Linked DNA regions of Homo sapiens: regions 2, 3, 4 and 5 are each linked to region 1. Evidence: fine-mapped expression QTL. A gene starts in region 1. Each other region holds a variant in brackets. All regions are shown on one strand. Distances are from middle to middle. Region 1 holds the start of ANXA11 (annexin A11). Region 2 overlaps SH2D4B (SH2 domain containing 4B). Region 3 overlaps ANXA11 (annexin A11). Region 4 overlaps MAT1A (methionine adenosyltransferase 1A). Region 5 overlaps LOC100130698 (a long non-coding RNA gene).

Evidence for each region. PIP is the estimated chance that this variant, and not a neighbour inherited with it, causes the effect.
Region 2: its variant is the best candidate, but not a certain one, in a credible set for the expression of ANXA11 in whole blood (TwinsUK, PIP 0.77).
Region 3: its variant is the best candidate, but not a certain one, in a credible set for the expression of ANXA11 in whole blood (INTERVAL, PIP 0.84).
Region 4: its variant is the best candidate, but not a certain one, in a credible set for the expression of ANXA11 in whole blood (INTERVAL, PIP 0.55).
Region 5: its variant is the best candidate, but not a certain one, in a credible set for the expression of ANXA11 in whole blood (TOPMed, PIP 0.76).

Annotation. Positions count from the first base shown.
Region 1 is chr10:80,203,808-80,208,169 of GRCh38, reverse strand. ANXA11 (annexin A11) reads left to right here and starts at 2,633. Exons shown (of 16, transcript NM_145868.2): 1 at 2,633-2,827. LINC00857 (long intergenic non-protein coding RNA 857) reads right to left here and starts at 460. Exons shown (of 2, transcript NR_038464.1): 1 at 1-460. RefSeq lists enhancers at 352-993, 24-1,223, 994-1,635, 4,275-4,354 and a silencer at 2,410-3,289.
Region 2 is chr10:80,565,496-80,569,857 of GRCh38, reverse strand. The region is part of intron 1 of SH2D4B (SH2 domain containing 4B); the gene reads right to left. Among named protein-coding and RNA genes, the nearest start is that of SH2D4B, 30 kb to the right of the region's middle. The variant G/AG (reference allele first, on the strand shown) is at 1,767.
Region 3 is chr10:80,172,856-80,177,217 of GRCh38, reverse strand. It overlaps ANXA11 (annexin A11), which reads left to right. Exons shown (of 16, transcript NM_145868.2): 2 at 1,063-1,111; 3 at 4,349-4,362. The coding sequence starts at 4,357. Among named protein-coding and RNA genes, the nearest start is that of ANXA11, 30 kb to the left of the region's middle. RefSeq lists enhancers at 1-293, 294-795. The variant G/A (reference allele first, on the strand shown) is at 2,115.
Region 4 is chr10:80,280,992-80,285,353 of GRCh38, reverse strand. MAT1A (methionine adenosyltransferase 1A) reads left to right here. Exons shown (of 9, transcript NM_000429.3): 3 at 1,316-1,438. Among named protein-coding and RNA genes, the nearest start is that of MAT1A, 6.5 kb to the left of the region's middle. The variant C/T (reference allele first, on the strand shown) is at 2,328.
Region 5 is chr10:80,251,469-80,255,787 of GRCh38, reverse strand. It overlaps LOC100130698 (a long non-coding RNA gene), which reads right to left. Exons shown (of 6, transcript NR_136612.1): 6 at 380-3,504. Among named protein-coding and RNA genes, the nearest start is that of MAT1A, 36 kb to the left of the region's middle. RefSeq lists an enhancer at 1,902-2,021. The variant A/G (reference allele first, on the strand shown) is at 2,398.

The sequences.
Region 1 (4,362 bases):
ATAGGTCACGTTGAAGATTTTATAGGTGAGAAAGCCGAGGCTCGGAGGATGCATGACTTGCAAGTGTCAGAATCAGAACTAGAATAGATCCCACACATTTGAACACCGAGTTTGGTGTCTTTTCCTTCACACCGCGTTCTCTGGGGGTGCCTGGGCGGTGACCCCTGCCATTGGCCTTGAGGATTAGGGCCTCAGCTCGGGTCCTCTGCAGAGCCTCCTCAGTCCCTAGCAACTTGCTGGCACCTAGCCGGGGCTAAACGCAGGTTTGTTGAAAATTATAAAAGGGTAAGCCCAGGGGTAGCTATTCACCATTCTGGGTTTGAAGAGCTCTGATGCAGAAAGGTGTATACATCCAGCAGGAATTCCACCCTACATGATTTATTATAAACGTGGTATTCTAGGAGCATTCGCTCAGCCACGGAGAAAAATGGGCCTTTCGAAGAAGCTGGCCTTCGCGGTCGCTGTGGGGCGGCAGAGCAGGCGCAGGCGTCCAGGCAGTGGGGGCTGGGTAGGCGCCAGGAGACCTTCCCGGACCAATCCCCGGGCCCAGAGAGAGCGCCTGGAGACCTTACCTCCCCAGGAAATTCACACAGATTTCTTGGGGGCTTCACACCCGCGCCCCCAGTCCCGCCATCTCCTACGCCGCAGCAGGCGCCCCCACCAGGGTAATAACCCACTCTGAGAGTCTCTGGTGGTGCCTCTGATCCTCTGCTCTTCTGTTCCAGGCAGCGTTTTCTCCGAGCGGCTCTGGAGACTTTGGCCTGAGTTTCACCCTCACTCGCCGACTCATGTCCAAAAAATGCAGTCCAGCCCCGAAAGAGAGCCGCGCCTGCTGGTGGGGGTAGGGGGTGTTGGAGCGGCCACGGAATATGACTGAGCGCCCGGGGCCCGTTGTGAGGCCGGGGCCAGGCTGTCCCAAGGCACCGTTCCTGCCCGGCACCAGCACACCTGCCCAGACAGGGAGAAGGTCGGAGCCTCCCCTCCAGTCCTTCCGGATTTTATTGTTCAGAGCGACTTTAAAACGCAAATCGGGCCGGGCGCGGTGGCTCACGCCTGTAATCCCAGCACTTTGGGAGGCCGAGGCGGGCGGATCATTTGAGCCTAGGAGTTCGAGAACAGCTTGGCCAACATAGTGAAACCCCGTCTCTACTAAAAATGAAAATTAGCCGGGCGTGGTGGTGGGCATCTGTAGATCCAGCAACTCAGGAGGCCGAGGCAGGAGAATCGCTTGAACCCGGGAGGCGGAAGTTGCAGTGAGCCGAGATCGCGCCACTGCACTCCAGCCTGGGCGACAGATCGAGACTCCGTCTCAGAAAAAAAAAAAAAAAAAGGAAAATCGAACCAGCAGCTTGTTTGTAACAGCCAAACATAGGCAACAACCTAAATGTCCTTCAGTAAGGAGCTAGGTAATGAAGAATGGTGAAGCGCACGATGGCGCGCAGTGTGCAGTGGATGGGAAGAACCAGGTCTGTTCAGGAGCACTTGTATGGAAAGACCCTCCAAGATATAGTGAGTAAAAAAACATGTTGCAGAAAAGTACTGCAATATCGTTTTGTAAACAATACGTTTATGTAAACACACACACACAGTGTTAAAGAGAGATATTTGGAAGGACACACCTAAGAGTGGGCTGGGGGAGTGGAGGGAAGAGTGAATCTCAATTTTTACTCATTTTTTGAATTTTTTATTTTTAGTTTTTTAGAGACTGGGTCTCACTATGTTGCCCAGGCTAGTCTGGAAGCCCTGTCTTCAAGCCATCCTCCTGTCTTGGCCTTCCAAAGTGCTGAGATTACAGGCGTCAGCCACCACTCATTAAAAAAAAAAATTGTATACCTACCATATATGCATATATTACCTGGGTGACCTTTTAAAAATATGCTTTATTTTTAGAACATCTTTAGATTTACAGAAAAAGTGTGAATACAGGGAATTCTCATAAACCCGGGCTTTTCCTATTATTAACATCTTAAGTCATTTTTATATCTCCGTGGGTTCCTCTTGGCTGTGACAGTGTCCTAGACTTTCCTTGTTTTTGATGACCTTGCTAGTTTTCAGGAGTACTGGTCATGTATATGGCAAGGGCCTCAATTGATTTGTGATGTTTTCCTCATGATTACAGTGGGGTTAGGTGTTCTTGGGAGGAAGACCACAAGCGGTGCATGCAATCAGTATGATTTACCCCTGTCGAGGTCACCTTGACGGCTGGGTGGTTTGTCAGGTTTCTCCACGATAGTCACTGACCGCTCCCTTCCTCACATACTGTGCGTGACCTTCCCCCCTCCACCACCACCGAGTGTTGCTATAAAGGAAATGCGTTTGACCTTTTCAGTGTAAAAAGTTTTCTCGACCTTAAAGAGAGTCACTAACCGACGCACACGGGGCTGGAGAGGACTTAGGAAATGCCCACCCCTGCAGGAGGGCGAATGCGGCTCTGCGCGGCACTGGGCGCCGCAGGGGTTAGGGGCGGCAGAGGGACCTCCGGAGCCCGAGACTTCCTGGAGCAGCTCCGCAGCCGGAAGGCTGCTGCTCCTCGCGGGCCCGCCGTGCCCAGTCCTCATCTTGGGGGCGGGGCCGCGCTCAGGCCCCGCCCCTCCCTTGCACTGCCTCTGGCACCTGGGGCAGCCGCGCCCGCGGAGTTTTCCGCCCGGCGCTGACGGCTGCTGCGCCCGCGGCTCCCCAGTGCCCCGAGTGCCCCGCGGGCCCCGCGAGCGGGAGTGGGACCCAGCCCCTAGGCAGAACCCAGGCGCCGCGCCCGGGACGCCCGCGGAGAGAGCCACTCCCGCCCACGTCCCATTTCGCCCCTCGCGTCCGGAGTCCCCGTGGCCAGGTGAGTGAGGGTCCCGAGCCGGCTGGGGGCCTGGGACCAGGCGGCGGCAGTGCACCGCGGCGCCGCGGGTGAGGCCCGGGGCTGCCTGGCGCCCAGCCCAGCGCGGCCCTGCGGCTTCCTGGTTGCACTACAGGCGTGGGGGTGGGGGGCAGGGGAGGGCGTCGGCGGGTCGCGGGCGGGCCGTGTCGGCCTGGCAGCCCCCTAGATCAGCCTCGGCGTCTGGGGCTGCTCCCTCATGTGTGGTCGGGGTGCACTCGCCGTCCCCCCGGGCTCAGGGGTCGGGGTCTCAGTCTGGGCCTGGGTAGGGCCAGGGGCCGTGACCCTGGGCGCAGGAGGCAACGGGTGGCGGGAGGGGTGCCGGAGGCCCGGCCCCGCAGCCCTGCGGAGCCCTCCAGGGTGCGCGCGCCCTTCTAGGCGAGGCTTGGGGAGATTAAGCAGAGAAGGCTATCTTCAGGAACTTTCCTCCGAAACTGGGAGCACGCACATTCCTGGGAGCTGCTACCATTGCAGTTTATTTGTAAGGAACTCTCCCCAGTGTTTGAGGGAATGCGGGAGCCATCCCAGGTGCTGTGCGTGCCTTCGCCCCTTCCCCAACCTTGATCCCCAGTTTCAGGAAGGGATTCCTGGACTTGTATCTCCCATGGGTGCAGGCCAGGCCCTTAAGACTTAGGTAAAATGGTCTGTTGGTTTAAAGGAGACACGCGAAGTTTGTTACCTAGAGACTTTGGAGGGGAAAAGTTAAGCCAGCCAGTGCTAGCCCAAGCTGGAAACAGTCAGCCCGGGGCATTTCTGTCTCTGCCCTCCAATCCTTGACCTCTCTGTAGAGATTCGGCGTTTGTGGTAGCTCTCCCCTCTGTTCTCTGCGCTGGGCATGGAGTGGAGCTGTGAGGCCGAGCCCCTGCCCTGCCCTGCCCTGCCCTGCCCACGCAACAGGGACTAGGTTTGCAGGGCAGGGCCTGGTATGCTCACCCTTCACTGGCTCTCATTGCTTTCCTCATTCCTTTTATGCGGCAGTCAATTGTTGGGGATTCCAGGGGATTAACAGGGCCCCTTTCCTCAAGGCATTCTTTGTGCTGCAAGGTGTTCCCTGATAAGAGAGGCCAGGTGAGGTGCCAGGGCAGTTTGTTGCCCTGGCATTGGGTGCCCACTACTTCAGGCTCCTGCATACCTTGCTATCTTTTCTTTGACTATTGTCTGTGCTTTGGTTTTTCATCTGTAAAATGGGGGTAATAGTAATCCCTGCCTCACAGGCTTGTGAGATTCAGTGCATTCATTTATTTAATAACAATACAGAGCTCAGGTACGGACCAGTCAGAACAGGTGGTGACTGCTGCACCACACTTGTGTATCCCAGATGGGTGTCACCCACATTAGCCATAAAGTGTGTGAGGCAGGCCTGGGTCATAAATAATCAGGTGTAAGGGTCAATAAATAGTAGCAGTGGAAGGTTCAGCTAAAGTTGAAATGCACTTCTCCTGAACCGTCTTTCTGGCTTAGCTCATGCTAAGCTCATGCTCTCTGTCTTACTGGAATGC
Region 2 (4,362 bases), 360 kb before region 1:
CTCCAACTTACTCCTAACCTCCCGGCCCCTGCAGTGATATCTTTTAGGTTAACTGCTTTTGCTTACCTCCGCACATAGGCCGAGCTAACAATGGGAGGAATTTAGTGTATAGTTTAACTGTAAAGCAAGGATGATAATAGCCCCTCCCCAAAACGAACCCCCCAGGAGACAAAGAGGGTGTACACACAAGTAACGATGTCATGTTAAAAATGTATAAGAGCATTGTGACCTGACCAAGGACAAAGAACTTTACCCTCGCTGCCACCCAGATGTCCATAGTCATTGCTCACCCTTTGATCTCAACCCCCCCGCCTCTTCCCCCTTCCCTTAACATAAAAGAAACCCAAAATTCATATTAGCTTAGGAGGTTCTTTAGGACACTAGTTGCCATCTTCTCGGTTCGCTGGGTCTCCGAAATAAAGTTGCTTTCCTTGCCCCAACGCCTTGTCTCTCAACTTATTGGCTGTTGTGTTGTGAGCAGTACAAGCTTTGGACTTTGCTACAAGAACATCAAGGGACATTGCAGCACTCTCTGAAGGAAGAAACTTGTGTCACTCCCGGGCCAAGGCAGTTAGGAGATGGTGGGCCCGCTCTGCACTCTCTGCCTCATGTCCACTGGCTAGAAACAAGGAATCAGGTGGTGGTGTGAGATGAAGCAGCCTGGGGCCCTGAGTCTCCCAGTCCCACAACAGACCGTGACACTAGCAAGAAATAAACCTGTGTTAAATTCAGCCACTGAGATTTCTCAGTTTGCCTATTGCAGCAGATTCCGCTGATTACAGGATTAAAATAAAAATGTATCCCAGAAGCAGGGTGCTGCTGAAACAGAAATATAAACTGTGTTACTGCCTTAGCAGTTGGGTGGTGAGCGATGTTTAACAGGCTAGAGATCCATGTTATGCAGCAGCAAAACATTCAGTTAAAAAGCTAGACACTGTAACTTCAAAAGCAGACCCCATGCTTTCTGAACTTTTCATTCTAAGGGAGGAGGTTGAAAAATAGAACATTAGGAATAAGTGTTGGTTGCTAGTGACTGTGTTTGGCAAGGTGTTAACAGAAAGAAATGAATTCAAGAAAGAACTGAGTGCTTTGCAAGCTGAAAGAAAGGGAATAGAACAAATACAGAAATTTGAGATGTTGTAGGATTGAAAAAGCATCTCTTCATATACCAGGACCGACATTGCAAGAGATGGGATTTTTAAAGGTTTTGTATGACAGAGCACAGGAAAACTTCTAAGGTGAATAAAGTGACGAAGGGCACACAGCACCTGCAGGTCAGGCTCTGTGAAGTTCTTATGGTGACCATGAGGATGTGCTCCGTCCACCTTCAACCACAAGGAGCATCACTGACCAAGCCCCGCAGCTCCTGTGCCCTTGCGTTTGCCCAAGGCCCTGCTTCCCAGAGGCTGCTGTTAGCCTTTTATTGAGGATGCTAGGCTCATTCCCAGGAGACACCCACCTCCTTGCCGAAAGATTGCTTTCCCTGGACTGCACAGCTGCCTGCAACACCTCTGCCCACTGTCCCTTGCCCTCTCCTTCACTCAAGGTCAAGCTTACAATGACTCCCTCAGCCTCCTCCAGCTCCCTGCCCTTTTTCTCTCCCAGACATTTCCCTTAATAAAACCCTTGCATGATTAATCCCATCCTGTCTGTACTCCTTGGAGAAACCAGACTAACATAGCCACATTAAGAACGTGATCTCTCATTGCGCCACTGCACTCCAGCCTGAGCGACAGAGCAAGACTCTGTCTCAAAAAAAAAAAAAA[G/AG]TGTGATCTCTCACACTTATTTTTAGAAAAAGCTTCAAGGAAGATGTCCTTCAGGTGAAACAGAGAGGCACAGAGATGAAGGGACAAAGGAAGAATGTCGAGTTGAGAAATATGTCTAGGAAAGAATTTTAGATGTTGTTACTGGGACATGGAAGCGAACAGAAGCCCCCTAAGTTTTTGAGCCTGGATTAAAAAATCTTTGGTTGTTCATGACTTAAATGGCCCTTGGGCATCCAAGTTTGATGACCAGCAGGCAGGTTTCAAAGGCTACACTGGTCTAGAGGGTGTGATCCTCAACACTCCCTTCAGAGGAGGCCAAGGGGAATCAGACAAAAAGCCTCATCCAGGCTGAAGTCAGTGTTCACTCAAGGAATTCTCTTCACTGCAAGGCAGGGAAACTTTGCGGTCCTGACCTGTAGGACTTCAGAAATGCTATAGACTGGAGACTGTGGCTCTCACGTTCTCCACTTTTCCAGGTGGCATTTCCTTAGTGGGTATTCTGACCCTGCTCCAGCACTGTATATAGTGCCTTAGGGGTGACAGGTATTTAAATGATATGTCTTCTCAGCACATTCAGACCTGATAGAGACCAGTGCAGAACCCCAGAGACAGTGGACTTTCAGCTGGATGCAGTGACTGGCTGGGACCTGAAGGTGTCCCCTATAAGAGGTGGTGAGTGTATTTTAGATGGAGGAGAAGAATGAAATGTGTGGATGGCCAGAATGACAATTTAGGACAGTGACAATGCAATGTCCACCACCCTATGTCTCTTCCTCAGCCCACAGATGACTGACTACATTCCTCAACTTCCCTTCAGTACAGTGGGACCATGTGATCGAATTCTAGTCCACGGAATGTCAGGGAAGGGATTTGTGCCATTTTCAGGCTAAGGTGGTTAGCAGCGGGTGTGCCTTTTCCACATTTTCACTCTTGTCCACCCAGCTGGAAATAAATGGTGGAATTTCACGGAAAAAAAGCAGCCTGATCCATGATCCAATATTCGAAAGCAAGCCACACAGAAGAAATATCCAACCCACATCAAACTGTGAAATAGTTAAGTAATAAACCTTCATCATATTAATCTACTGAAATTTCAGGTTTTTCTACATGCGCAAGACAGCAGTAATTCTCCAGATATATATAGGAGTGCATTGCTATTTTTAAGTATGTTACAAGCAATATATAGTAAAGAAACACCGATTTAATTATAACTGATAGAAACAGAGAGGCAACCACTGCTTAGAATTATAAAACTTTCAAATTAATAGTGGGTAAAAATAAATGATAAGAGGATTACCAATCCTGCTAAGCAAGGGGAAAAGATAAAGCAGCAAAAAATGGGTAGCTATTACAGCAGACACTGCCAATTAACTACCCACCCTCCACGCTTGCCTCACCACAGAACCCCAAGTTGTTCAGGGAGCAGCAGAGATCCCCCCTCTTTTAGGAAAGGTGAGTTTTGACCCCAACCTCAAAGGACAAATAACAATTGATTTGGCAGGGCGCAGTGGCTCACGCATGTAATCCCAGCGCTTTGGAAGGCTAAGGTGGGCAGATCACCTGAGGTCAGGAGTTCCAGACCAGCTTGGCCAATATGATGAAACCCCATCTCTACTAAAACTACAAAAATTAGCTGGGCATGATGGTGCATGCTTGTAATCCCAGCTACTCGGGAGGCTGAGGTGGGAGAATTGCTTCAACCTAGGAGGCAGAGGTTGCAGTGAGCCAAGATCACGCCACTGCACTCCAGCCTGGGAAACAGAGTGAGACTCGGTCTCAAAAAAAAAAAAAAAAGAAATTGATCTAATCCCATCAGGTAATATTATTCTCATTGGCAAGTGATTCATCTATGAGTGACAAGATGTCCCCATTTCTGACAAAGAAGATGTAGGCAGACGTTCCATGTAAAGGGCTCTTCTTCTCCAAACAAACTGGATAAGTCTTCTTAGGAGAAACCCCTTCCCTCTTCACTCTTTTTTTTTTTTTTTTTTTTTTTTTTTTGAGCCGGAGTCTCGCTCTGTCACCCAGGCTGGAGTGCAGTGGCGCGATCTCAGCTCACTGCAAGCTCCGCCTCCTGGGTTCACGCCATCTTCCTGCCTCAGCCTCCGGAGTAGCTGGGATTATAGGCGCCCAACACCACGCCTGGCTAATTTTTTTGTATTTTTAGTAGAGACGGGGTTTCACCGTGTTAGCCAGGATGGTCTTGATCTCCTGACCTCGTGATCCGCCCGCCTCGGCCTCCCAAAGTGCTGGGATTACAGGCGTGAGCCACCACGCCCGGCCACTCTTCACTCTTTTACCCGACCTTCTTCTTCCTGCCAGGAATGAAGCAGTGATTCCTGGAGCCACTGGAAAACTTTTGCAACCATGAGGATAAAAGCCACATGCTAAGGATGGGGAGGCAAAAGATAGAAGGGAAGGGATCCTTGGTGATCTTATCGAGCAGCTAAACTAGTATTACCCATTGCAGCACACCCCCAGATTTCTTGTCATCTGAGAAAAATAAGGAAATTTAAGAAATAAAGTTCTTCAGTTGGGTGTGGTGGTGCATGCCTCTAGTCCCAGCTAGCAGGGAGGCTGAGGCAGGAAGATCCCT
Region 3 (4,362 bases), 31 kb after region 1:
TGGGAGTTCGAGACCAGCCTGGCCAACATAGTGAAACTCTGTCTCTACTAAAAATACAAAAATCAGCCTGGTGTGGTGGCAGGTGCCTCAGGTGCCTGTAGTCCCAGCTACTTGGGAGGCTAGGGCAGGAGAATTGCTTGCACCGAGGAGGTGGAGGTTGCAGTGAGCTGAGATTGCGCCACTGCACTGCAGCCTGGGTGACACAGTGAGACTCCGTCTCAAAAAAAAAAAAAAAAGTGGGGAGCAGGCTTGAAACTATTTCAGGCAGAGAATGACAGAGGGAAAAATGAGGCTATTCTTTCTAAGAACGGAGGACTAGAGGTATATCTTGGGGAGAGGGGAAGACCCAGGGTCGCAGGACCACAGCTCACAGTGGGGTCGACCTGCCCTGTGGGGCCATGCAGGGCAGAGCTCCTAGCCAGGAGGCAGATTTTGACTCCTGCTGGGAACTCCCTTAAAAGCCACCCCAAGAATGAGCTCCACGAGCGCCATCAAGGCTGGCCTGCAGGCCCTCCAGGGTTACCAAGGCTGCCTGGAACTGAATGGACCCTGTGTGTGTTCTTTTAGTCTTGGAAGACCAGCCAGGACTTTGGGGGCCAGACGGCTAGCCTCAAGTGAGCTCAGAAATCTGCACCTGAATTGGGCCTTTTTAAAAGTTGTTTAATGGCCAATACATACATGCAGCAGAAATGCACAGGGAACAGATCTAAACCGGAAGCCTCATTTTCTAGCCCCACCTTTCCTCTCGAGAGGCAGCTAGTGTTAGCTAGTTTCTTGTGTGTCATTCCAAGGATGTCCGTGCACGTCTACACTCAGGAACCACTTAGTTTGTATGTTTCTGGGTTTTTTATTAGCTTAGTACATACACAGTACTGCACCTTGATTAATAATGGTGGTCATTGCATCTTTCCATATACAGAGCTGGCTAAATCCAGAAATAGCTACAGAGTATCCATTGTTGGATCTGTTGTGGTTTATTTAACCAGCCTCATTGGTGGAGGTTTAGGAGTTGTTGCAGATAAGGCTGTAGTAAAATTCATGTCTGTATGACATTTCACACAGGTGTGTGTCTGGGGAAGAGACTTACAGAAGTGGAGTTGCTGAGTCAAAGGTATGTCATTTTAAGTTTTGATATCTTTGTATTTTATTTATTTATTTATTTTGGAGACGGAGTCTCGCTCTGTCACCCAGGCTGGAGTGCAGTGGCATAATCTTGGCTCACTGCAACTTCCGCCTCCCAGGTTCCAGCCATTCTCCTGCCTCAGCCTCCCGAGTAGCTGGTATTACAGGCACCCACCACCACGCCTGGCTAATTTTTGTATTTTTAGTAGAGACAGTGTTTCACCATGGCCAGGCTGGTCTCGAACTCCTGACCTCAGGTGATCTGCCCACCTCGGCCTCCCAAAGTGCTGGGATTACAGGCATGAGCCACTGCGCCCAGCCGACATCTGTGTATTTTTAATTGGTGATTTCCTCAGCACATTGGTGAAGGTGAGCATCTTCAGCTCCTTTTCTGTAACTGCCAGATCTGTTCACATCATTTGACAGTTTCTCTAGTGGTTATTGATCTTTTTCTTATTATATTAATAAAACTTTTTTCCTAAGTTTTTTTCTCATCTTTATTTTTTTTTAATTTGTCTCTTATGCTGAAATTTTATTTATGTCGTTGGTTTTTGGGGCTACTTCTTTCACTGCATTATTTGGCCTGGCTGGAATTTACTTGGTATAAGGAACAGGGTGGTATCCAGCTTCTGTTTCTTGGGTTTTTTCCCTGGCCTGGCTGTGGATGGAGCTTTTGGCTTCATTTCTCTGAGAGGAGGCCAGGAGTGGAGAGTGTCTTTGGTGCTCAAAGGTCCTGCCTAGTGGTGTCTCCAGAGAGGAAGGTGACAGAGACACCATCCCGGCTCTTCCTGCTCACCTGTCGGGCAGTTCCTTCTATTAGAAGGTTCCTGGCCTACTGGTCATTTACATCCCCCAGATTACCTCCTCACCAGTGAAGTCTGAGGGTTTGGCAGAGTCTGGGCAGAAGGGTCAGGCTGGGGCCGGGACGGGGAGGGCTTTGTACTGACAGCCCACCCAGCCTCAGGGACACCCTCTCTGAAGGTGATGCCACC[G/A]GGGACCTCATCCACCACGTGCTTAGGGGCTCAGAGAGACCGAAAACTGCAAGGAGTAGGTCCTTGGTCCACACTACAGGGAGCCAATTCCAGCTTTCTCCAAAGCCATAGGGCTTTGCCTACGGTCACCTCTGGACCCACTGACCCAAACAAATGACTACACCCGTAGGGCTGAAAACCAGGCCCACCCTATGGGGACCGGTGGTACCTTAAGGAAGTTCTTTAGCTTCCTTAAAAACAGCATGTAGGCTGGGCACAGTGGCTCATGCCTGTAATCCCAGCACTGTGGGAGGCCGCAGCGGGCAGATCACTTGAGGCCAGGAGTTCAGACCAGCCTGGCCAACATGGCGAAACTCCATCTCTACTAAAAATACAAAAATTAGCCAGGGATGGTTGCGCCCTCCTGTTGGAGGCTGAGGCACAAGAATCCCTTGATCCCAGGAGGCGGAGGTTACAGTGAGCTGAGCTCGCACCACTGCACTCCAGCCTGGGTGATAGAGTGAGACGCTGTTTAAAAAATAAAAGTAGGCCAGGCATGGTGGCTCATGCCTGTAATCTTAACACTTTGGGAAGCCGAGGCAGGCAGATCACCTGAGGTCAGGAGTTCGAGACCAGCCTGGCCAACATGGTGAAACCCTGTCTCTGCTAAAAATACAAAAATTAGCCAGACATGATGGCGGGCGCCTGTAATCCTAGCTACTTGGGAGGCTGAGGCAGGAGAATCACTTGAACCCAGGAGGCAGAGGTTGCAGTGAGCCGAGATCACACCATTGCACTCCAGCCTGGGTTACAGAGTGAGACCCTGTCTCAAAAAAATAAAAATAAATAATAAAAAAACTTAAAAAGAACAGCATATACCAGCCTCGGCAACATAGTAAGACTCTCAAAAAAAAAAATTAGCTGTGTGTGGTGGCACATGTCTTTAGGAGGCTGAGGCGGGAGGATTACCTGAGCCCAGGAGGTCCAGGCTGCAGTGAGCCATGATTGTGCCAGTGCACTCCAGTCTGGGTGACAGAGCGAGACCCTGTCTCAAACAAACAAAACCCAATATGCCCAGTTCTTCAAGATAGATATGAAGGGCAGCTAGACTCTTATAGTTGGATAGCGTGGCTAGAACAGTGGTCTTCAAAGTGAGTTCCCTGGACCAGTAACATCATCTGGAAACTTGTTCCAAATGCAAAAACTGGTTCCACTGTCTCAGAAACTCTTGGTGGTGGAGCCCAGCAATGTGTTTTAACAATCCCATCAGGTGATTCTGATATGCATTGCAGCGTGAAACCCAGTGTGTAAAAAGAAGCCACATACTCGAGACGAGCAGGTGTGATTGTTGAGGGACCCTGCAGGTTTCCTCACATGTCCGCCTGCCATTGGGTGTCTCTGCAGACTGCAGCAGCAGCTGCTATTAGCAAGAGCAGGCAGGTTGCACAATGTGGCTGGTGTCACAGCAGATCTGTGTCCCTCCTCACAATTTAACTGGCAGGGGACATTGCCAAGGGATCCGTGTTCAGAGGGACTTCGTGAGAGCAGGTGTCTCACCTGGCACCTGTCCAGGCTGCTCTTCCTCCCTTACTGACAGATCTGCAAATCACTTACTTCTCTTAATCAGCAGCCTCTACTGCAGAAACAGGGTGATGCTGCCTCATTTGCCCTGGTTCTTCACCCTGCATCAGATGAACCTCCTGAGGGCCCTTTTTGCTTCTAGGAACGATGATTCCATACCTTACCAGGTCCCCTTGCCTGATGAACCAGAGGTTGGAGAATGAAGAGAGACAGGGGCCTCTGACTTCCCCTGTTGCTGGAGGGATGGCAATAAGGACACAGGAAGATAAATAGACAGACCTGGAGTCCTGAGAATGAGGCAGTGCGTCTCTACCTCTGAGGTGGGAGAACAGGCCCAGAGGCGCACTGCACCCTTGCCAGCAGAGGCAGGAGCAAAGCTTCAGTGAGAGGGCCTTTCAAGGAAACTGGCTCATGGGGAGTGAATCCTGTCACTGTGGGTGGGGCCGGGGGTGTGGCCCTGGCCCAGAAGTCAGGCAGCATGCTGGTGGGTACTGTTTCTAGCTGGAGGCACCAGCAGGAGACAGTGAACTGGTCTGCGACAAGCAGGGCAGATGCAGCAGTTTCTTCTGCAGGGTCCCAGTTGTGGTGGTGGCTGCCCTTTCAAGAAGCTGGGTCCCACGGGCCAGCAGGGGCTCTCAGGCAGAGCCTGAATGTGCTTTCGTCTTCTCTTCCAGATCTAACCATGAGC
Region 4 (4,362 bases), 77 kb before region 1:
AACAGGGAGGAAAAACATTTCTAACCATGAAACAAATAGATAATTATTTTTAGCAAGAATCTAACGTTAAATGTCATAGCAACCATAAATAGCAGAGGGTTGGACCAGCACATGGCCTTTCTGATGCTTGATCTCATTGGGAACAAGGAGGTCTTTCAAAGTTCTTAGGTGAATCTTCCAGACGGGATGCAAGAGCTTGAAACACAGGTAGCTGCCTAGATGGTTATAAGCTGCATCCTCATTGTAGGAGCCTTTGTTGGCTGCACAGATACCTGGCTTCTTCTCTTGTTTTCTTTCCTAGTTTGTGGTATGATTTAGGTTTTAAAATAATTAGTGTCCCCCATTTAATAGCAACAGGAAGGCAACATCTTCACCAATTGTTTTTCAATAAATCAATGGCTTTCCTAAGAGACATTAATGTTAAACTAAAGTACTGAAGCCCTGGCTCCCATCTGCATAATTTATTGTGTCTGAAGACTCATGTAGGCTGAAGATCTTCACCTTTATTTGTGGGATAAGTTGTTTGGCAGGAAAACCTTTGCCTGGCTTGAAGCCTGTGGCACAGTGGCAGAGTCATGGACTCTGGAGTCTGGAGGGGCCCCAGGGTGATCAGGTCCAGCCTGTTCATTTTAGAGACAGGATCACGGTACCCTCTGCATCAGGGCCTGGCCAAGGCCATGGGGTAGGGTGCCCCAGTGTGAAGACCAGAGCCTTGCTCTCCTTACTGTCATTGTCATGTCTTGTCCACTGCACAGACCCATCCTTCCCTCTCTGGTTGCATCCTCAGCCCTGTATTGAATACTACAGGGACTCATGCCCCTCTGAAGGTAGATTCTACCCTTATATCTTTGTAAATATCTGGAGAGAAGGTTGGCCTGCTTTGATTTTTTTTGGTCCAGATCCCACTCCCTAAAGCCTGCAGTGGAGGTTTAGCAATGTGGGGGATGGGGGGTCACATGTGTGGACTACCTTCTTTATGACAGCTACATACAACCATCATCTCCCTTTAATCCACATAGCAGTCTTATAAATAGCTTTATTAAATAGATGAGGGAACAGAGACTTAGAGGGGTTAAATAAGTTGTCCAGGATCACAGCTTATGACTGACTCTTTCCAAGACAGCATTGGAAGATGCTCAGTGCTTGGTGCTGGGATTTTTTCTTTTTATTGGCGTTTCTATTTTCCTTCTGGAATCCATTCCTCGTAAGGCCCCTCCTGTGTCTTTTCTGTCTGCACTGTGAGAGGTCTGGGAATGTGAGCTTCCCTTTGCTGGCACTTGGCTGCTAACTCTCCTCGCTCCCCGCTCCCTTTCAGAGACAGTGTGCAAGACCGGCATGGTGCTGCTGTGTGGTGAGATCACCTCAATGGCCATGGTGGACTACCAGCGGGTGGTGAGGGACACCATCAAGCACATCGGCTACGATGACTCAGCCAAGGGTGAGGGCAGGCCTCCGGGTCTGAAATCCCTGTTGCTCTCTGCTGATAGAGACCCCAGTGCTGAGTCAAACCCGTGCCTTTCAGCCCGATGGGAGCATCAATACTACCAGGAGGAAAACACTCCTACACTTGTCTGTCAGGTTCCAGGGGTCAAAGACTCTGGCATAAGGATGGCCAACAGGCGACTATGCCCAGTGGGCCCAGCACATGCCCATCTGTTGTTGATTGGGCTTGTTTTAGGCCTTGCCTTCTTGGCGCTGCCAAAGGCTTTGGAAGAGAAAGATGCACTGAATAAAGGGGGCTGCCCTCCTTTGGGGACATGCTCGCTGCCAGGCACTGGTGATAGTCTCTTGTGTTGTCTTAATCATTTATGTACTTATGCAGACGAGGAAATGGAGGCCTAGAGGGGTAAACAGTCTGTGTGAGATCACAGGGTAAGCAGCCACTAGGCTGAGGACTCCTGTGCTTCCACTAAACCTACTTGCAATCATAGACATGGAGCAAGATGACTCAGTCCAGAACTGGTGCTGACAGCAGGCGAGGCTGGTCCAGGTTAGCACCAGTGCTACATAGTGTGGGGCCACCACCCAGGGAAGGGGCACAGGCCCTAGCAGAACTTTGAAGCAGATTCCAACATCTGAGACTGAGCAGGCCAGGCAGCGGCACAGCCTGGAGGGCAGCAAAGGACCCAGAGAGCAGACACCAGGTGCGGAGGGCCTGTATGCGATCACATTCTGCAGGAGCTTCAGGGGCCCTTTGTCCATGCTGGCTTCCTGGGCAGGGCTCTGGCCCCAATTCTTAGAGTCTCCACGTTGGTCTCTGGCATTAGATGTTCAGGCAATTCTAATTTTTAAAGAAAAATTCATTTTGGGTCTCTGTTAGCTCTTTC[C/T]CTAATTCTCTGAAATCACTGTGAGAGATGTGATGACCTCACGCCATGGCAAAAAGACCCACTTCCAGGTCATCCTGCCTAGCTATACACCTGTAATCAAGATGCACAGAGAGAAGCATGACTTTAAAGGTGTTCATTTCTGCCTGTGTCACATAATCGTTGTCTAGGGTGATGTGTAGCATCCTGTGGGTCAGGGTGCTGGACCCCCGTTTGTAAGTGAGAGAGCCCACTCATGGTATGATGGTGCAGACTCGCAGAGGTTCAGTCCAGCCATGGCCTGGTGCAGCCCAAAGCACTCATGAGCAATTAATATTGGTTGAGTGCATGACAGTGATTTTGAGACTCAGTGGGAAGAGAAGCAGTAAGAACCAGTTAATTCTCCTGGTCGGGACATGAGGGTATTCACAGAGGAAACACATTGTCCCAGAGCTGCAGCTTCCTGAGGCGTTACCACACGGAGCCTGTTCTACCAAAAAAAAAGCCAATTTGTTTATGTACATTTAGACCTTATTCAAGTGCAAAACTTTTTCTGCATTAGGCAGGAGGGAAATTTTCCAGGAGGCAATGTTCCCTAGAAAGGGAGAAATGAGCGAGAGCCCAGCCGTGGCTGAGTTGAGCTCAGCTGGCTGAGGTTCCCTGTGCCCAAGCTTGTCCATTTACCTGTGCTCAGTGGACAGGAACAGCCTTAGCAGGGTCTCAGGCCAGTGGCTCCTCGTTGCTCCTGGCTGCGGTGTTGCTGGGCTCATTGTCCTTTCCAAGTCCTGTACCTCCCCTCTTGGTCCCCTAAGTTCTGTTTTTCCAAATTCCTTGGAGCCCTTGCTTGATTTTTGAGCCCTGGGGAGATTCATTATTTAGACAGACAGTGATTAGGTAAACTGAAATGTTCAGTGCAGAACAGGACAGCTTTTGGCAGTTCTTTAAAGACTGTTCATTGATTTGTGCATTCAAAAACATTCATTAGGAAACAGGAGGGTGTAAAGGGCAAAGGTGACCTGATACTCCCAGGGTATATGATGCAACATGAGGTGCCCTGGGGTAAGTTCCTGGCATTGTGTCTAATGAACTGCAGGCAGGTCCAGGGACATGCACTGAGAGTGGACGTGGGGTTTGGGCATGTGGGGTGGGAGCTGGAGGTAGAACGTTCTAGGCAGGGACCTAGTGGAGATGGAAAAGTATATCATGCTGATGGCTAAACTTGAGTTCATGTTGGCTCAAGGAGTCCCAGGAGCAAGGGCTGTGTCAGACTGAAAAGCTTCAGTTTTATTCCTTGGCAGTAGATCCCCACCTGAAGCTTGTACAGAAACAGCAGCTTGGATCTGTGTGTTTTCTCTGTAAGCCCTTTCAGGCTGTGTGGGTAGGAGAATAGATGGGAAGGAAGATGGCTGTGGGGGTTTGGAGAGTGAGTGTGTCACTATGCTTGACCTTGTGGTGGGGGCGTCCATGTATTCAGTCCCTTATTCTCACAGTCCCTGTGACTGAGCCCAGCACAGCTGTGAGGAGGTGCGCACGGTCTCGGTGCATAGCAGTTTCCTCATGGGACTCCCAGGGCTGAGCTACTGCTAGTCCAGACTTCCCCAAACCAGTGCCTCGCGTGCTAGGTGTAGCAGGCCTGCACCCTGTGCCTCAGCTTTGTAGATGGGAAAGGGCAGGTGGCTTTTCCATTTGCCCCAGACTCTGTGTACCTCTCAGGGTCAGAGGACCCTGGCTTGGGGAGTCTGTCTGGATAGTTCATGTACACTGTATTTGTTCAGTATGTTTAATAGTTGTGTCAGGCATACAGCTGGGCTTCTGAGTGACAGTATCAAAAGGGCTCTTGATTTTCTCCTAGTGCAGTGATGCTCAAACTAGATTCTGGGAGGCACCTGTGGGAGAGCCTGAGGGGCAGGGTATGAGTCAGCCACCGTCCTCAGCCAGAGGAGCCTTGGCATCACCTTGTTTTAATCTGCAGGTCTCTGTAGGATGTGTGTGTGTGTGTTAACCAAGGTCTAATTGAGCACAGTAAAATGCACCACGGAGAATTTTGGTTGGCCAAAGA
Region 5 (4,319 bases), 48 kb before region 1:
GCACAGTGACTCTTTCTAGAATGAATGAGCACAACCTCCACCCGTGGCTGGATACAGGATATTCCCCCACCCCAGAAGCCCCCCTCGGACCCTTCCCAGTCAACACTACCCAAAGGGTAACCCTGCTTCTGTGTCCAGCAAGGCAGTATCTGCCTGAGTTTGAATAGTGTATGAGGAGTCACACCTGGTATACCCTGGGGTGTGAACTGGTCCTCCAGGAAGCGGACACCCAGAAAGATAGGACTGCAAATGTTTCTAAAGGGAAACACTGGAAATGAGAGAGAGAGGAGGAAGCATGGGACATGGAGCATCAAATATGGTAGAGACTTTTCCAAGATATCATGGCCCAGGAGACTCTTCAAATTTCAAAATTATCCTGTAAGGTAAAAAGATTTCGGTTTATTTCCAGGTGACCTTCTTTTGCCCAATATACATTTTGTCTTCTATGAAATATCTGTGCCCCTGCTGAATACTTCTGTGTGTGGCCATATCTGTGTCTGTATGTCATGGAGAATAATTATCCACAGATCACAGATACAAATCTCAGAGTTTAACTGTGTATGCATTTTTAGGATCTCTTCATCTCGTAAGGATCTGAATTCTAATCTTGGAGACAGGGGCTTTCCCTTATCTTTTGAAAGAGAAACTGGAAATCCCAGAGCCTGAGCTGCTACACCCTAAGGTTTATTAAATGAACTTCAATGAACACCTTTTGCTGATCTTCTGAGTGGAAATATTTTCATTTAACCAGCGGGAGGGGTGAGGCTCTACCATCTACCAGCTATTTTGCAAGATGCCTTCCTTATGAGCTTGGTCTCCCTGTCCTCACCATGACCTCATAATCGCATCATTCCCAGCTCATTTCTGAGAAAGCTGGGGCTCTGAGCTCTACTGAGAGTTGGTGTCTGGGCTTAGGCAGCAAAGACACAGGGAAGGGGAAGCATTTTGCCTGCCAAGGTTGGGAGATGCAAAGCTGAGAGTTGTGGGTGGGAAGGAGAGGGTGCAGGAGATCAGAGTAGGTCACAGCAGCTCAGGATTGGCCTTGAGTTTCCAGCCAGAGTTGGCCTCATTCTGAAGGCCAAGGCCGCAGCTCCACTGAACCAGACCCATCCTCATTGTTAGTCTCCTTAGGCCGTGAAAACTCAGGGAGACAGGTTCCCCTGACAGAACCAAGTTAAAATTTTCAGACCTCTAGGCATTCATTCACCCCGATCTAGAGCCTTCATGCACCCAGGGAAAGAATCATCTTCCTACCGATAATGGACTAAAGGCTGTAGGGCAACAAGGAAGTGCTGGGGTGGTAATTTCCTGTGCACAATGTGGTATCTGAGCTCCCATGGCAGCTCTGTGTGGCCCTCACCGCAGCCTCCATGCTCCTGCTCACGCTGCTTGCCTGGCTAGGAGCAGCCTTCCAGCTCTACCTGAGTTCAACAACCCCCCATGTCACACCTCCCTGCTTCAGCTTTCTCTTCCACAGCCTCCTGTTTACTCCCAGGAGATTCTGTCTCCTCCTTCTGCACCCTGTGTCCCTTCACTTGTGTTTCCATTGGGCTGGTCAGAAGCTCTGTGCCCTTCAGTGTGGGTCTCTCTGCTGCAGCACACAGGATGCCCTGCCAGCCAGGGATGGGTCTCATCCCTCACAGAGCTGGCCATATGGCCCAGGTTCCACACAAGCCTGCAAAACTTGTATTTCTAGCTTCTATAAATAACCTCTGGCTGGGCACAGTGGCTCACACTTGTAATCTCAGCACTTTGGGAGGCCAAAGTGGGCAGATGGCATGGCTCCAGGAGCTTGAGGCCAGCCTGAGCAACATGGTGAAACGTGGTCTCTACAAAAAGTTAAAAAATAAAAATAGCCAAGCATGGTGTTGCACACCTGTAGTCCCAGCTACTCTGGAGGCTGAGGTGGAAGGATCACCTGAGCCCTGGAGACGGAGGTTGCAGTGAGCCAGGAGTGCACCCCTGCACCCCAGCCTTGGTGACAGAGCAAGACTCTGCCCCCACCCCTTAAAATGAAAAAAAACTCTTTCCTCATCTACAGAAGATACCTTCTGCCAAGGTCATGATGAGGAAATAATGCAACTGACTTGTACTCTCAGAAACTTGAGCAAAGTGACCACATCCTCAGCCAGTGCAAAGCCCTGCAGTACAATCTGTAACATTTCTATTCATTCAGAAAGGGAAAGATGAATCCATTTTGCAACTCAGTTCATACTGTTCAGATAAATATACCAAGTAGTACATGTGGAGGTCGTGGTCGAGGTCCTACAGGCAACAATGGGTAGGGGAGCTGGTTGAGGTCCTGGAGGAGTTCAGATAGCAGAGGCCAGCCAAGTGGAGGAGGTGGCAGATGTACTAGAGGAGACCCTGGTGGAGGAAGTGGCTGAAGTCCCAGGG[A/G]CCACAAATGGAGATTATTGAAGTAACCGAGGAGATTCATGTGAAGGTGGTTATTGAGGGGCCAGACGCCACCCAGGTAGAAGGGGTGGCTGAGGATCCAGAGGTTACTAAGTGGAGATGTAGTCGGAGGTCCCAGAGGCCTCACAGAACAAAAAGGTAAATGATGTCCTAGAGGAAGGCAGCTATAAAAGATGGATGAGGTCCTGGAGGGAAGACACATGCTGGACGTGGATGAGGTCTGGGAGGACCAAGAGCTGTAGGAGGTGGATGAGGTCCCGGAAGACAGACACATGTAGCATGTTGATGAGGTCCCAGAAGACTTACAGCTCCAGGAGGTGGATGAGGTCCCAGAGGACCAACAGCTGCAGGAGGTGGATGAGGTCCCAGAAGACCTACAGCTGCAGGGTGTGGATGAAGTCCCAGAGGACCAACAGCTGCAGGAGGTGAATGAGGTCCCGGAAGACCAACAGCTGCAAAAGGTGGATGAGGTCCCGGAGGACCACCAGCTGCAGGAGGTGGATGAGGTTCCGGAGGACCACCAGCTTCGAGAGGTGGATGAGGTCCCGGAGGACCGACAGCTGCAGGAGGTGAATGAGGTCCCGGAGGACTGACAGCTGCAGGAGGTGGATGAGGTCAGATGCATGCCGTGGGTCAATGAGGTCATGGAGGACCAACAGGTGCAGCAGGTGATTGAGGTCCTGGAGGATTGACAGCCGCAGGTGGTGGATGAGGTCCGGAAAGACAGGCAGCTGCAGTAGGTGGATGAGGTCCTGGAGGACTGACAGCTGCAGGAGCTGGATAAGGCCCCAGAGAACAATCGAGTGGAGGAGGTGGTTAAGTTTTCAGGGGACTCTCTAGTGCAGGAGGTGGCTGAGTTCCCAGAGGACAGTCGAGTGGAGGTGGTTGAATTCCCAGAGGACTCTCCAGTGGAGGAGTTTGTTGAGGTCCCAGAAAACCTTCAGATGGAGGGAGTGTTTGAGTTCCCAGACAACACCCAGGTAGAGGAGGCGGCTGGCAGCCCATCAATGGTCCTGAAGGGCCAGCCATGACATCGGGCAAGTAGGGCCATTCTGAGAAAGGATGAGGCTTCCCTGTAGCCACATTGACCTACAAGTCAGGAGGAGAAAATGTTTTGAAATATATGAATATGATGGACACAAAAACACCAAAACCAACACAAGCTGCACCTTATGCCTCAGGTGATAGTCCCTTGCACCTTTCCCTCCTCCAGGTTTCAAAATGGCAGCATCAATGCCATAAAGTGTCCCTTCAACTGAGTCCTTCCAACAGCAGGGGAGTGAAGAAAAGTCGTGGGGACAAACTGCTATCCCCACACGCCACTCTGTCTGCAAATGTACGCAGGCTGGGGCCTGTCCCTGGGAAGACAGAGTCATAACCCAGTAATAAAGAAGCATGTTTCTGACACAGGGGTGTCTATGTCTATCCTAATTCCTCCCTCACCATCATCACCGGAGCATGTTCCTTGCATCAGATAAACAGAGAGAAACAGAAGCATGAAAAGCCCATTGTCCACACATGAGTCACAGCTACTCTTAAGAGAATGGCCTCCAGGCTTTTCATGTGCTGTCTCTGATTCTCAGAAATCTACAAGGTCAGTGTGACCACCCTGCTCCAAATCTAAGAAAATAGAGGCTCCAGAGGAAGGAGAAATTTCACCTAGCATCACACAGCTTGCAAGAAGCAGAGTGGAAGTCGATTCCAGCTCTGCCTGCAAGACCCTCTCGTCCCCCTTCTGCTTCCCTTCTTGACAAACGGTCTTCTCTACTTTGGAAGCGCCATCCATGGGCACAAAGAGCTATGGGGAGATGGGGATTCCTGAAGAGCTACAGGGGAACTGGGAGAGGGTTTTCTGACGGAATAATCTTACCTAGAGATAGCAGTTTGGCACGGTTATCATATTT